2 separate regions of the Homo sapiens genome follow, and region 2 is linked to region 1. A link means that fine-mapping ties the variant in region 1 to the expression of a gene that starts in the linked region. Tissue or cell type: whole blood. Region 1 holds a variant in brackets; the other region holds the start of a gene. All regions are shown on one strand. Distances are from middle to middle.

Region 1 (7,835 bases):
CTACTCACTCGCAAGGCTGCACATACCTGTCCATCCCCAGAGTTTTCCTCCAGCCCGTTATCTTCCACACCCTCTTCTTCTGGTTTGCGCCCTGAAGACAGAATCATTTACAGCATGAGATCAAATGATACGCACTTTACAGAAGCAACAATGCCCTGAGCACTACACAAGTGGTCACTTTATAAACATCTGAGACACCTCACTACTTAGGAACACTTCCTAATCCAGGAATGAGGCCATTCCGCACAAGACAGCCCTGCCCCACCCCCAAGCAGAAGAGGTTCTGTTCTTGTCTGAGCTGTGGAAGTAGAAGTGCAGAAAACAGGTTCTTAGTAAAGTTGAACAGGATCAGACCTGTCCTCAGCTCTGCCCTTCTTCCTATCCCAAGTGTCCTTGTTTGAGGGAAAAATTATTTGTTGCAAATGTGCTGCCTTTTAGTTAAGGAACATGTTTTCCCACAGAAACTGCGCATGCCCGAGTATGCACATTTTTAATGCTTAAAAAGAAAAAAGAAGGGCCGGATGCGATGGCTTACGCCTGTAATCCCAGCACTTTGGGAGGCCTAGGCGGGCGGATCACCTGAGGTCAGGAGTTCGAGACCAGCCTGGAAAACATGGTGAAACCCCGTCTCTACTAAAAATACAGGACAATCACTTGAACCCAGGAGGCGGAGGTTGCACTGAGCCGAGACTGCGCCACTGCACTCCAGCCTGGGCAACAAGAGCGAAACTCGGTTAAAAAAAAAAAAAAAAGAAAAACAAAAAACCCACATACTATCAAGATACTCCAGAGGGGCTGGGCACGGTGGCTCATGCCTGTTAAGTCCAGCACATTAGGAGGCCGAGACAGGTGGATCACTTGAGGTCAGGAGTTTGACACCAGCCTGGCCAACCTGACGAAACCCTGTCTCAACTAAAAATACAAAAAACTAGCTGGTTGTGGTGGCGGTTGCCAGTAATCTCAGCTACTCAGGAGGCGGAGGCAGGAAAATCGCTTGAACTCTGGAGGTTTAGGTTGCAGTGAGCTGAGATCGTGCCGCTGCACTCCAGCCTGGATGACAGAGCAAGACTCTGTCTCAAAAACAAAACAAAACAAAACAAAAATTGCAGAGGAAGGTTTTTTTTTAACTTATACATTTCCATCAACAGCGAATTAAAAAGTGCCAATCTCGTGCACTTGTAGTCCCAGCCACTCGGGAGGCTGAGGCAGGAGAATCGCTTGAATCCGGGAGGCAGAGGTTGCAGTTAGCCGAGATCACACCACTGCACTCCAGTCTGGCAACAGAGCGAGACTCCATCTCCAGAAAAAAAAAAAAAAAAAAAAAAAGCCAATCTTTCTTGAATCTCTGTTAAAAATTTGCTATTTTTCTTTATCTTTGCCAATATGCTAGGTAAGAAAAGGAATACTGTTTTAACACGAATTTATCTCCTGACTACTCAAATTGCTTTGAATCATTTGCTTTTTGTTGTTGATCACCTGTACTTTTCTAAAAATTTCTGATTTACACCCCACTATTTAAAAACTTCGGCTCCAGCCAGGCGCGGTGGCTCACGCCTGTAATCCCAGCACTTGGGAGGCCGAGGCAGGCGGATCACCTGAGGTCAGGATTTCGGGACTAGCCTGACTGACATGGAGAAACCCTGTCTCTACTAAAAAAAACCAAAAAAACAAAAAACAAAATTAGCCAGGTGTGGTGGGGCATGACTGTAATCCCAGCTACTTGGGAGGCTGAGGCAGGAGAATCGCTTGAACCCAGGGGGTGGAGGTTGCGGTGAGCCGAGATCCTGCCGTTGCACTCCAGCCTGGGCAACAAAAGCAAAACTCCATCTCAAAAACAAAACAAAACAAACAAACAAAACACTTCGGCTCCATCCCCCATCATTTGAAGTTTATATATCATATGTACAAAACATATTTTCCCAGTTCTTTACCAGTTTTTAAATTTTGTTTACAGGTTTTGAGTACACTTCACTGTTCTTTTTTTTTTTTTTTGGGACGGAGTCTTGCTCTGTCACCCAGGCTGGAGTGCAGTGGCCTGATCTCAGCTCACTGCAACCTCTGCCTCCTGGGTTCAAGTGATTCTCCTGCCTCAGCCGCCTGAGTAGCTGGGATTACAGGCGCCTGCCACTACACCCAGTTAATTTTTGTATTTTTAGTAGAGATGGGGTTTCACCATGTTGGCCAGGCTGGTCTCAAACTCCTGACCTCAGGTGATCCACCTGCCTCAGCCTCCCAAAGTGCTGGGATTACAGACATGAGCCACCGCGCCCTGGCCCATTTCACTCTTATGTGGCCAAGCTATTAATTGTTTTTAAAATGTAAGTGGTTTATACCTTCATGCTTGGATGTCCTCCTCCATACTGAAGGCTAAATAATATACACCTGTATTTAGTTCTTTTGAAGTTTTAAACATTTATTCTCTCAGTTTCATGTTGAGTGAGACTATTTTCCCAATAGTTGTCCCATTTGGAAACTGATTTCCCAGCACCACTGACTAAATAGTACTTGCCCCCGACCAATTTGAAATGTTGGCTTCCGCAATATTATATTTGTATTTATGTCTGGGATTACTTGTTTCCATTCTCTTCCACTGATCTGTTATTTTTGTTCCAGTTTTAGATATGTGGCATTACCATGTTTTTCTAAATAGAAAATACTTGCCAGGCGTGGTGGCTCATGCCTATAATCCCACCACTTTGGGAGGCCAAGGCGGGTGGATCATCTGAGGTCAAGAGAAGAGTTTGAGAACAGCCTGGCCAACATGGCAAAACCGCGTCTCTACTAAAAATACAAAAAAATTAGCCAGGCGTGGTGGCAGGCGCCTGTAATCCCAGCTTGGGGAGGATGAGGCAGGAGAATCGCTTGAACCCGGGAAGTGGAAATTGCAATGAGGCGAGAACACACTACTGCACTCCAGCCTGGGTGACAGAGCAAGACAGACTGTCTTTAAAAAAAAAAAAAAAAAAAAAAGACTAAGATTAAGTATAAAAAAAAAGAAACTAAAAAACGATTGGAAGGTATGGCTTAACTCCAGGTTTTTCTTCAAGAGTTTAGTAATTTTAGGCTGGGCGTGGTGGCTCACACCTGTAATCTCAGCACTTTGGGAGGTCGAGGTGGGTGGGTCACCTGAGGTCAGGAGTTTGAGACCAGCCTGGCCAACATGGTGAAACCCCAGCTCTACTAAAAATACAAAAATTAGAAGGACATGGTGGCAGGTGCCTGTAATCCCAGCTACTCGGTGGGGGGGTTGACGCAGGAGAATCGCTTGAACCCAGGAGGCAGAGGTTGCAGTGAGATGAGATTGAGCCACTGCACTCTGGTGTGGGTGACAGAGACAGACTCCATCTCAAAATAAATAAAATAAAAAGAGTTTAGTAATTTTAAAAAATGTGAAAAACATCAAGAGGCTGCATACCTTCTTAGGTTCATACTTCTCCTGTCAGCCAACAATGCTAAGAACAGGGAAGTCATTTCCCCAACTCCCCTTGTGCAACCTCCCAATTTTTCTTACTAATTGATGATTTATAACATTTGCAACAGTTCACAAGGGCAGGCATGCTGGCACCTTCATCCAAACAGCAGTATTTATATAGTCATTTGCTTTTTCATACAAATGATAAAATGAGTAGAGAATAGAAAAATGTAAACGATGATACCAGAAATAACAGAACTGAAGCAAAAATGGAAGTCATTAGGCATGGCAAAAATGAAATTTCTGGTGTCAGGAATAGGCATGCTCAAATTAAACTCTTTGACTGTCTTCCATGTGAAGAATAAAATCACATGCATGAAATCCATGAAATAGACTCTGGAAGACCACATCTCAAAGGCAAGGCATAATGTAGCATCATTTCATGTTTTAGAGCTACTGCCAGCACAGCTTCCTAGCATTCCTTATAGAAGGCGGTGCTCAGCTTTTTGAAGAACATGGGAGAAAAGCTGATCAAACACACAACTTTGGGAAAACTACTTCCTGCCAGGCCTCTTTCCCAGTGTGAAGAATAGTCTATTTTTTTTTGGAGACAGGGTCTGACCCCGTCACCAAGGCTGGAGTGCAGTGGCATGTCTTGGCTCACTGCAGCCTCTGCCTCCCAGCATC[A/G]AGGGATCCTCAAGGGATCCTCCCACCTCAGTCTCCCGAGTAGCTGGAACTACAGGCACGTGCCACCATGCTTGGCTAATTTTTGTATTTTATGTAGCAGTGGGGTCTCACTATGTTGCCCAGGCTGGTCTTGAACTCCTAGGCTCTCAAGTGAGTCTCCTGCTTGGGCCTCTCAAAGTGCTGGGATTACAGGCACGAGTCACCACATCCAGCCTGAAAATCAATTTTTTTTTTTTTTTTTTGAGATGGAGTCTGGCTCTGTAGCCCAGGCTGGAGAGCAGTGGCACGATCTTGGCTCACTGCAAGCTCCACCTCCCGGGTTCACGCCATTCTCCTGCCTCAGCCTCCCGAGTAGCTGGGACTACAGGCACCCGCCATCACGCCCGGCTTATTTTTTGTATTTTTAGTAGAGACGGGGTTTCACCGTGTTAGCCAGGATGGTCTCGATCTCCTGACCTCGTGATCCACCCGCCTCGGCCTCCCGAAGTGCTAGGATTACAGGCGTGAGCCACCACGCCCGGCCGAAAATCAATTGTTTTAAGGCTAAGTGTTGTTTCAAGCAGTATTAAGGAAACAAGGTCTGACACTGTGGCTCACACCTATAATCCCAGCACTTTGGGAGGCCGAGGTGGGTGGATCACTTGAGGTCAGGAGTTTGAGACCAGCCTGGTCAACACGGTGAGACCCTGTCTCTACTAAAAATATAAAAATTAGCCAGGTGTGGTGTCAGGCACCTGTAATCCCAGCTACTCGGGAGGCTGAGACAGGAAAATCACTTGAACCCAGGAGGTGGAGGTTGCGGTGAGCTGAGATTGTGCCACTGCACTCAGCCTGGGTGACAGAGTCAGACCCTGTCTCAAAGAAAAAAGAAAAGACAATTAATTTGTCTATACTGGAAACTATTCTTGTAACTGGATAAATATGTAACATCCTGGGGGGAGAAAAAAAGAAAAGCCAAAGACAAAAATTCCAAACCTAATTATTTGTACTGTAATTGACGTTTAAATATTCTAATTTCATTCATATTTTTAGAATTACCTTATTTACAAAGATAGGGGACTATCAAACTGATAACAGAATTCAATACATGATATTTTGGTCAGTTGGCTGGGAAATCCATCCCCATTTTATACCATTATTTCTTTGGCAAAACATGCCTCGAGGTCTAAAAAACAGCTGGAACTCAACCCAGTGGTCTCTGTAAACATGCTGGGAAGAGATACCAGAGCATTGCCACAGAATGATTACATTTGATAAAGTTGCTACAATTCTATGATACGTACGTTGGTTTCTGTCCAATCCTATTCCAGATAATAGGAAAAATCTACTAACTTATCAGAAACTTGCTGCCCTCCATACGGTGTTCTCTCTTCCTCAGGAGGGGTACTAGATTTTCATCAAACAGAATCAGGGTTTTCCACTTCTATGACCACTTTTCTCCCAAGCAGTATGTACAGGTACACTGCAGCCAAATCCTTCTCAGGGGAAAGCTCCCCCGAGGTAAAATGTGACTGGAAATGTCGAGAGAACATGCAATCTTCAAAATGTTTAATCTTCAACGTATAAAGCACATCCCTGACTGGAATGTTTATTAATCATCACGACTTGAGGAAAGACAGTATTCTCCAGAGAAGAAAAACGTCTAAAAAAACCAAAAATGAATGCAAATGGGAAAAGTATAACTCTCTGGCAAAAACTGAAGAGCCATTGATTTGTCTTTAGTATCAAGGCCAATGTGCCCCTTGAATCCTTCTACCTCAGCTCTTCACCCTAGTTTGTGGTCTCAGCTATGGGCATGACCGTCATCGCCTCTATCGCCTGCTCGTAGCTCCCTGCCTGGGATTCCATCTCTTGCCTTCTGTTAAGCTTCTGCCTCAGAGACTGTCCAATCTCACTGCTGACTCTGCTGCCCTGGACTTCTGCTGGGATGCTCCCATAGTACCCAGGGCTGCATGTGGGTGGTTCATTACTTTCTGATTTGATTACACAAACACACTTCCCTAATTATGCAAATATACGTATTAAACTTTACTGCAGTAACAGAAGATTCATCCTCCTAAGTATAGGAAGTATAAAGCTATAATACCTTCCCTTTTCCCTACTGTCCTCTTAAGAGGTTACCAACGTTCCCAGCTTGGTGGTGCCTCAGGACATCATCTTGCATCTACATACATTATATGATACATATGGAAATAAGCTTGTGATGAGATGAAATCTTATTGTTAGTGAGCAATGACACAAGTTACAGAAACTACTAACAGGCCTTGGACATTTTTATGTACTGCGTATTGATCCACCTCCATCTTTGACTCCATGCTACGGCAGTTCCCCACGTTAGCTGCCTTCTCAAAAAGGCTGTAGCAATTTATTGTCTCCAACACCTACACCTTCCCCAATACCCTTGCCAATGTAGGAGAACAGGAACTGTGTAAAAAAAATTTTTTTTTGAGATGGAGTTTCGCTCTTGTTGCCCAGGCTGGAGTGCAATGGCGTGATCTCGGCTCACCGGAACCTCCGCCTCCTGGGTTCAAGTGATTCTCCTGCCTCAGCCTCCCGAGTAGCTGGGATTACCGGCACGTGCCACCACACCCGGTTAATTTTGTATTTTTTTGTAGAGACAAGGTTTCTCCATGTTGGCCAGGCTGGTCTCAAACTCTTTACCTAGAGTGACCCGCCCACCTCAGCCTCCCAAAGTGCTAGGATTACAGGTTTGAGTCACCGCACCTTGCGGAACTGTGTAAATTTTTACCAGTTTGATAGGCAAAAATCTTATGTCATTTCAAAATTTGCTATTCTGCAACTACCAGCAAGGGAATCTTTTGGTCTCTAGGCCACATCTGCTTTTTCATTTATTTGTAAATTGCCTGTTCATAGTCTCTGCTCCTTGTTGACTGGGTTGCCTGTTTTCCTTACTGATTTGTCAGAACATTCAATGCTTTCTGGATATGAGTTTCTTCCTTATTCTGTGCTATAATATTTTCTCCCAGACTGTTGCATACCTTTCTTAACAGAGAGTTAAAACTTTTATGTAGCCAAATTTCTCTTTCTTTGTTGTTTCTCAGTTTTATTCTTACTTCAGGTCTTTCTTATTACTATATTATAAAAAGTATTAAACTAGCTGGAATTTCTATTTTACACAAGAAGAGATAAGATTAGAGCTTTCCCCCACCATCAAATGAACAAACCCTCAAACTTTCTGTTGTTTGCAATATCCTATCATCAAAATTAGAGGAAATCCCTGTATTCCCCCCCGCCCAGAATTTTAGTTATTCTTGTGCATTTTCTTTTTAGACTATTATGGAACACATTATAAAATTTCCTTTTAGGTTACTGTGGAGAAAAGTGACAATTTTCTGATAAAAAGTCATCATATCTAGGAAAATTTTCTCTGCTAAAAAGTCATCACATCTAGGAAATTTTTCTCTAATTAGTGATTTCGCAGGACTTGAAAATTTCCTGTTAATTCTATTTACTATTTAAGAATGTTATGTACATTTCAATGTCAATCTGGCAACATGCTTAATTCTTTGATTCACTAATGATATAACTGTCACCTAAAAAATCCTGGAGAAGTGATTAACAATTTTAACCAGCTAGCAAGTTTGCCAAACTGTTCATGAGGGCTTTGTCACCTTTCTTAAGCTGTCTTTGGCTTGCTTCGGATTGCTTTAACAGTACTTAATTTCCTGAGGTACAATCAGCCCAGTAGCTCTCACAAACCAAGTACTGGCCCAGG
Region 2 (6,820 bases), 150 kb before region 1:
ACCGCCTGCTGCCCGAGCTGCGGGACTGGGGCGTGGCACTCGTCACGGTGGGTCTTGGGACGCCTCGGGCATTGGGGCCTCGCGGTCGACCCCGCGTCCCTTCCTAATGGCTCCTCTCCTCCCATCCCTCCCTCTTCACCTCCACACCTCCCTCTGTCTCCGCCTGTGTCTCTCTCTGTCTCTCTCAGCCTGGCTCTCTTGGTCTCTTCCTCTCTGCGTCTCACTCTCTGCCTCCTACCCTGCGTGGCGGCTTCTCCCCCAGCTCCACGGCCGCTCTCGGGAGCAGCGCTACACCAAGCTAGCCGACTGGCAGTACATCGAGGAGTGCGTGCAGGCCGCCAGCCCCATGCCCCTGTTCGGTGGGTGTTCCGGGAAGCCACCTCCCTCTCCCCTACCACCCTTGGTCACTCACACCTCTGGGCTGTTCGCCTTCCCACTTGGGACCCCCTCGTACCACCCTGATGGGAGCCACTGGGTCAGCCAAAACTCCTGAAGGGCTGGTGAGCAGAACTCCAGGGTCCCACCTGCCCATGTCTCCCTGAGACCCCAGCCTCTGTCTCCTCAGGAAATGGGGACATCTTGTCATTTGAGGATGCCAACCGCGCCATGCAGACTGGTGTCACCGGGATCATGATTGCCCGGTAAGTGCCCAGGGATGTTAGAGATCCAGCTTCATGCACAGCAGCAGTGCCCTGAACCCAACACGCCGTCACCCACCCCTGTTCTGTGGTGGGCTGTTGGTCCCAAGATGGGAGGAGCAGAGAGCGATGTCAGGAGTTGCAGCTGCGTTGCGGCAGAGGGGACTGGAAATTGCTGCTGCTGTGGGATCTGATGATTGTGGGTTGAAAGTCCTGGGCTTTGGCCAGGTGTGTGGCTCACGCCTGTAATCCCAGCACTTTGGGAGGCCAAGGCACGCCGATCATTTGAGGTCGGAGGTTCAAGACTAGCCTGACCAACATGGTGAAACATCTCTATTAAAAATACAAAAATTAGCCAGGTGTAGTGGTACACGCCTGTAATCCCAACTACTAGGGAGGCTGAGGCAGGACAATTGCCTGAACCTGGGAGACGGAGGTTGAACAGTGAGCCGAGATCTTACCACTGCACCCCAGCCTGGGCGACAGAGCCAGACTCCGTCTCAGAAAAAACAAAAGAAAGTCCTGTGCTTTGAAGGTTGTGTGCATGCAGCTGGGAGGCTTACTAGGCTTGTAGGTTTTGTGGTCTGGGCTCCGGCTCAGGCCAGGCCATGGAAGCAGAGGCCACACGATCCCAGGCAGGCTGGTGGCTGGGCCCACTGATCGTCACCCGTCCCACAGTGGCGCCCTGCTCAAGCCGTGGCTCTTCACGGAGATCAAGGAGCAGCGGCACTGGGACATCTCGTCGTCCGAGCGCCTGGACATCCTGCGGGACTTCACCAACTACGGCCTGGAGCACTGGGGCTCGGACACGCAGGGCGTGGAGAAGACCCGGCGCTTTCTGCTCGAGTGGCTGTCCTTCCTGTGCCGGTGGGCACCGGGGCTGGCTGGGGTGGGCGGCGCGTGGGCCGCGGCTGGTTAGAGCTGACTCAAGCCTGTCCTGCCCGCCCACCCGCCGCAGGTACGTGCCCGTGGGGCTGCTGGAGCGGCTCCCACAGAGGATCAACGAGCGGCCGCCCTACTACCTGGGCCGCGACTACCTGGAGACGCTGATGGCCAGCCAGAAGGCAGCCGACTGGATCCGCATCAGGTGCCTGGGTGGGCTGGAGTTGGGGAGCTGCAGTCGGGGGCCCGGGGTCACGGAGGGTACTTTGCAGGTCCTGGGCCTGACCTCGCTTTCCACCTGCTCTCCCACAGCGAGATGCTCCTTGGGCCAGTGCCCCCCAGCTTCGCCTTCTTGCCGAAGCACAAGGCCAACGCGTACAAGTAGCCTCAGGCTTTCCCAGGGGCACCCTGGGGCGAGGAGAGTACAATAAATTTTATTCTTTTAAAATCCAGGCCTTTCTGTGACCCTGAAGCAGCCCCTCCTCGGCCCCCACCTTCCCCAAACCTCTTAGCTGCCTCCATGGGCCCTGCCCCAAGCTGGGTGCTGCTGGTGCCCAGAGAGGCCTTGACCCCCAAGAAGGTAGCGGGTTGAGGACCCGGGGGGCCTCAGCCTGTGTGGGTGTGGATCAGGGCAGCCTGCCTGGAGGAGGCGGCCTCAAAGCTGTTAGGGGGGTGTTGCTGGAAGAGGCAAAGGCCTGGCCCAGAATCCTCCCTCCCATGGTGATGACCATGTCTGCCAACGTCTGCCCCTGCTTGCCCCCAACACCCAGAACCCCAACCAGTGGGCGCGCTGCAGGCTGGAACCCGCTGCCCCGAGTAACCAGGCAAACAGAACCCCACCAGGTTCTCAGCCTGTTCTCCGGTTGGGCCACTTGCACTCCCACTGCCGCCCTCCTGGCCTGTCTGGACCGGGCCCCCCGCTGCCCCATGCAGCACCCCAAACCGTTCTGTGCCCCTGCAGCTCCCCAGGAAGGTTTCAGCCCGCAGAGTCTGGAGGGGGCTGAGGTGCTGGGCAACCAGCCTGCTCCCACCTGTGCCGAGCCTCCTCCCGCTATGGGTACGATCGGGTGGGTGGGAGCACCTGCTGGAGAGGGTTCAGGGGCCCACCCGCCTAAGGGCCCTACCCACCTGGGCACCTTTGTCCACAGGCTCCTTGAACCTGTATCATCCCCCAGACCCAGAGAAAGAGGTGTTTCCAGCCCCACCAGCAGGTACCGGCCTCCCCTGAGCCCTTGACGAGGCTGGGAGTGGGTTTGAGTGTGCAGGCCCATCTTGCCCCTGCCCCGTCCCTAAGTGGGAGCCTGAAGGCATGGCCTCTGCTCCCCATGCTTCACACAGGTCCCCCAGATGAGCCCCAAAGACAAGCTCTGTGTCATCCATCACCCAGCCAGGGCCCCAAAGCAATATCTATGTCGTCCCCCAAAGGGGCCCCCCAATGGCAAGGTTCTTGTGGCATCTCCCAAACAGGCCCCCAGGCTTGGGCTGGGCCCCTCAGGCAGCAGCTGCTCTCAGGGCACCCGCCTGCCGCCCACAGGTTTCCAGATGGCCCCATGCGGGTGCTTCTTCGACCCCCGCATCTATCGGATCGAGTGGACCACCCCCGACCTGGGCCAGTCAGCCCTGTATAAGCTGGCAGCAAGCAGCGGGGGGCCAGCGGGGGTCCCCTCCGCCCCAGGCAGCTACCTCCTGGAGCCTCAGCCCTACCTCAAGGCCCCGGGGCTGCCTCCATACCCCCACTACCAGCAGGCACCCGGGGGGCCCCAGTTTCTCTTGCCCTACTTCCCGCCTGAGGGCCCCGGGCCAGAGGCTCTGGGTTTTGTGGGGGACGCAGGGCCCGCCGCCTTCGTGGAGCTGCCCCTACCGCCCCTAGAGGAAGGCCCGGCCCCGCTGCCACCCCCACCCCCCAAGGAGAACAAGCCGCCCCCTGTACTCATCACGCTGCCTGCAGAGCCCACACTGCCCCCAGACGCCTACAGCCACCTCCAGGGTCACCTCGGCCACTTCCCTGGGCCCGAACCCCTGGCCTTCCCCGTCAAGGAGCTGCAGGGCAGTGGGGCCCGACCTGGGGTGCCCCTGTACCCACCGGGCCTCAGCGAGCTCAAGGTGGCCGAGGTCAAGGAGGGGGCCCTGCTGGGAGCAGGCAAGGCCAAGGCCCCCAAGACGGCCAGAGCTTTGGCACTGCCTGACAAGGTTCTGCTGGAGGACGCCATGAAGCTCTTCGACTGCCTGCCAGGCGCCTCTGAGCCTGAGGGTACCCTGTGCGAGGTCCCTGGGCCGGCCCTGCCTGACAGCAGTGGTGGGAACTCAGCCGATGACATCCGCTCGCTGTGCCTGCCCGAGGAGCTGCTGTCCTTTGACTACAGCGTGCCTGAGATCCTGGACACCGTGTCCAACGTTGACTACTTCTTCAACTTCAAGGCGCTCGACGAGGAGCAGCCGCCCCACCCGGGGCCCCCTGCCACCAACACCCCGGCCCCCATTCTGTCTGGCAAGAGAAAGGCCTCGACGGCCAAGAAGGGAAAGCCGGGAAGGAAGGCCAGGCAGCCGGCAGGCCCAGCCAGCGCCACTCCCCCGGGGCCCAGGGAGGACCTGGGAGCCACCCCGCATTAAAGCACATTTGACCTTTCAGCTCCATGTCCACGTGGGGGCCTTGGGGATGGGGAGGGGGCTGGAGATGCACGCCTGGCCCCTCACCCCATCATCCCGCGGACTGGCAAGGCAGCGCCCCCGGCCTCACAGTGAGGCCTCTTAGCAGGGGAGCCCCGGAATCACAGGACACCCTAAACTCCTTGAGTCCCAGCCCTGGAACATCAGACTCCTCTGGCAGAGGCAGGGGCCTCCTGGGGCACGAGGGAGCTGACCCCCAGACTCAACGCGTTCTAAGGGTTTTCACCCCTTTGTTTGGTGGGGGAAAGCAAGGCTGCCCAGAGCAGCAGGAACTTCCTTGGAGACACACAGCCATCAGGGCAGGGCTTGAGGAGCATCCTCCAGATCCCCACCCAGCTGCCTCCTGTCCCCAGGAAGCCACAGCCACTGCAGGCAGGGCGGGAAGGGCCACGCTCTTGTTCAGACAGACAGGTGGGTGCAGGGGCTTCACCTGATGGTCTGAGGGTGGGGGCTGGGGCAGGGATGAGACAGTGCCCACGCGTGAAGGGGTGGGGAGCACACGGCACCCAGGGGGCCTGGCATGTGCACCCAAGATGGAGACAGGAGACAGCACCTGGAGCCCAGGAGAGGGTCAGGGGCCCCACCCGGCCACACTTCGGGGTCCGGGGTGGCAGGGACAGCCTGGCTACTCGTTCCAAAATGGGATGGGCCCAGCCTCGGAAGAACGACCTCCGGGTGCTGGTTCCCGTCACTGCTTACCCACATCAGGGTCTCGAGAGCCCTCCTGGGGGTCCAGGCAGTGGCCACCTGTACCCTCCTCCCCTGAAACGCTCATGGTGGCCCTGGAGAGGCTGACCCCATTCCCCCAGGGACACATAAGGAAACAGGAGGTCGAGTGCCATCCAGCGCCTCCTGGGATGAGGACACCCCTCTGGGATGGGAACCTTCAGCCTACCCCTTCCCCAGGCTGCGGGCTGGATCTCCTGGGTCTCCGGAGTTTGGGTTTCAAGGCCTCTGCTTGGGGAGGCCCTGGGAGGCTCACCTAGAGTCCAGGAGGCTGATGGGTGTTTGGAGGCCGAGCAGAGACCATGGTCCCGGCTCTGTGTAGGGCACTGTGCCTGCTGCTCTCTGGAGCTACTCTCCCGGAAACCCTTATTCAAAAAACTCAGGAGGAGGCCAGGTGCAGTGGCAAACACCTGTAATCTCAGCACTTTGGGAGGCCGAGGCGGGCAGATCACTTGAGGTCAGGAGTTCGAGACCAGCTTGGCCAAAATGGTGAAACCCTGTCTCTACTGAAAATACAAAAATTGGCCGGGCGCAGCTTCTCACGCCTGTAATCCCAGTACTTCGGGAGGCCAAGGCAGGCAGATCACGAGATCAGGAGATTGAGACCATCCTGGCAAACACGATGAAACCCCAGCTCTACTAAAAATACAAAAAAATTAGCTGGGTGTGGTGGCGGGTGCCTGTAGTCCCAGCTACTCGGGAGGCTGAGGCAGGAGAATGGCGTGAACCCAGGAGGCGGAGCTTGCAGTGAGCCAAGATTGCACCACTGCACTCCAGCCTGGGCGACAGAGTGAGACTCCGTCTCAAAAAAAAAAAGAAAATGCAAAAATTATCTGGGTATGGTGGCAGGCGCCTGTAATCCCAGCTACTCAGGAGACTAAGGCACAAGAATTGCTTGAGCCCGGGAGGCAGAGGTTGTAGTGAGCCGAGATCACATCACTGCACTCCACCCTGGGCAATAGAGCAAGACTCCATTTCAAAAAACAAAAACAACTCCGGGTAGTGTCTCGGGGCCATGCAGCTGTGGCCCTCAAGACAGGGTCCCCCTGTCCCAGGGACTGTGCCATGTGCCCTCCTGGCATCTGCAGTGATCCCCATTCATCACTGTTTGACCCGTGGGGACACAGGCTGGGAGAGACTCCAAGTGCACTTTTGTTTTTTTGAGGCAGAGTTTCGCTCTTGTTGCCCAAGCTGGAGTGCAATGGCGTGATCTCGGCTCACTGCAACCTCCGCCTCCCGAGTTCAAGTGACTCTCCTGCCTGCCTCAGCCTCCCGAGTAGCTGGGATTACAGGTGTGCACCACCACACCTGGTTAATTGTATTTTTAGTAGAGACGGGATTTCACCATGTTGGTCAGGCTGGTCTCGATCTCCTAACCTCAGGGGATCCGCCCGCCTCAGCCTACCAAAGTGCTGGGATGACAGGCGTGAGCCACCGCGCCCAGCCCCAAGCCCACTTTTCTCAGCTGCTTTTCAACTCCTTCTCCCCGAAGCCTCATTAGGGGTATCTCTGAAACTAAAACCAGGTATCCCAAGTGTCGGGGAGGTCCTGGCTGATGAGGAAGTGGGGCAAGGACCTGGATCACTTTTCTTGAAGATTAATGTGGAGTGAGGGTCACACAGTGGATGTCTGCAAGGACCCAAGCAGTAGCTTTTTTTTTTCTTTCTGAGACAGGGTCTCGCTACGTTGCCCAGGCTGGAGTATAGCGCCGTGATCATGGCTTACTGCAGCCTCGACCTCCTGGGCTCAAGCGATCCTCCCACCTCAGCCTCCCAAGTAGCTGGAACTACAGGCATGCACCACCACACTCAGCTAATGTCTAAAAAAATTTTTTTGTAGAGATGGGGGGTCTTGCTATGTTGTCCAGGCTGATCTTGAACTCCTGGCCTCAAGTGATCCCCCTGCCC

Evidence for each region. PIP is the estimated chance that this variant, and not a neighbour inherited with it, causes the effect.
Region 2: it holds the start of PRR22, and the variant in region 1 is fine-mapped to the expression of PRR22 in whole blood (TOPMed, PIP 0.97).

What each region holds. Positions count from the first base shown.
Region 1 is chr19:5,633,850-5,641,684 of GRCh38, reverse strand. SAFB (scaffold attachment factor B) reads right to left here. Exons shown (of 21, transcript NM_001201338.2): 3 at 27-91. Among named protein-coding and RNA genes, the nearest start is that of SAFB, 15 kb to the right of the region's middle. The variant A/G (reference allele first, on the strand shown) is at 4,100.
Region 2 is chr19:5,780,288-5,787,107 of GRCh38, reverse strand. PRR22 (proline rich 22) reads left to right here and starts at 2,362. Exons shown (of 3, transcript NM_001134316.2): 1 at 2,362-2,577; 2 at 2,669-2,731; 3 at 3,055-4,148. The coding sequence starts at 2,448. The coding sequence ends at 4,130. It overlaps DUS3L (dihydrouridine synthase 3 like), which reads left to right. Exons shown (of 13, transcript NM_020175.3): 8 at 1-47; 9 at 263-359; 10 at 566-641; 11 at 1,317-1,505; 12 at 1,597-1,725; 13 at 1,833-1,968. The coding sequence ends at 1,905. RefSeq lists a silencer at 6,198-6,376.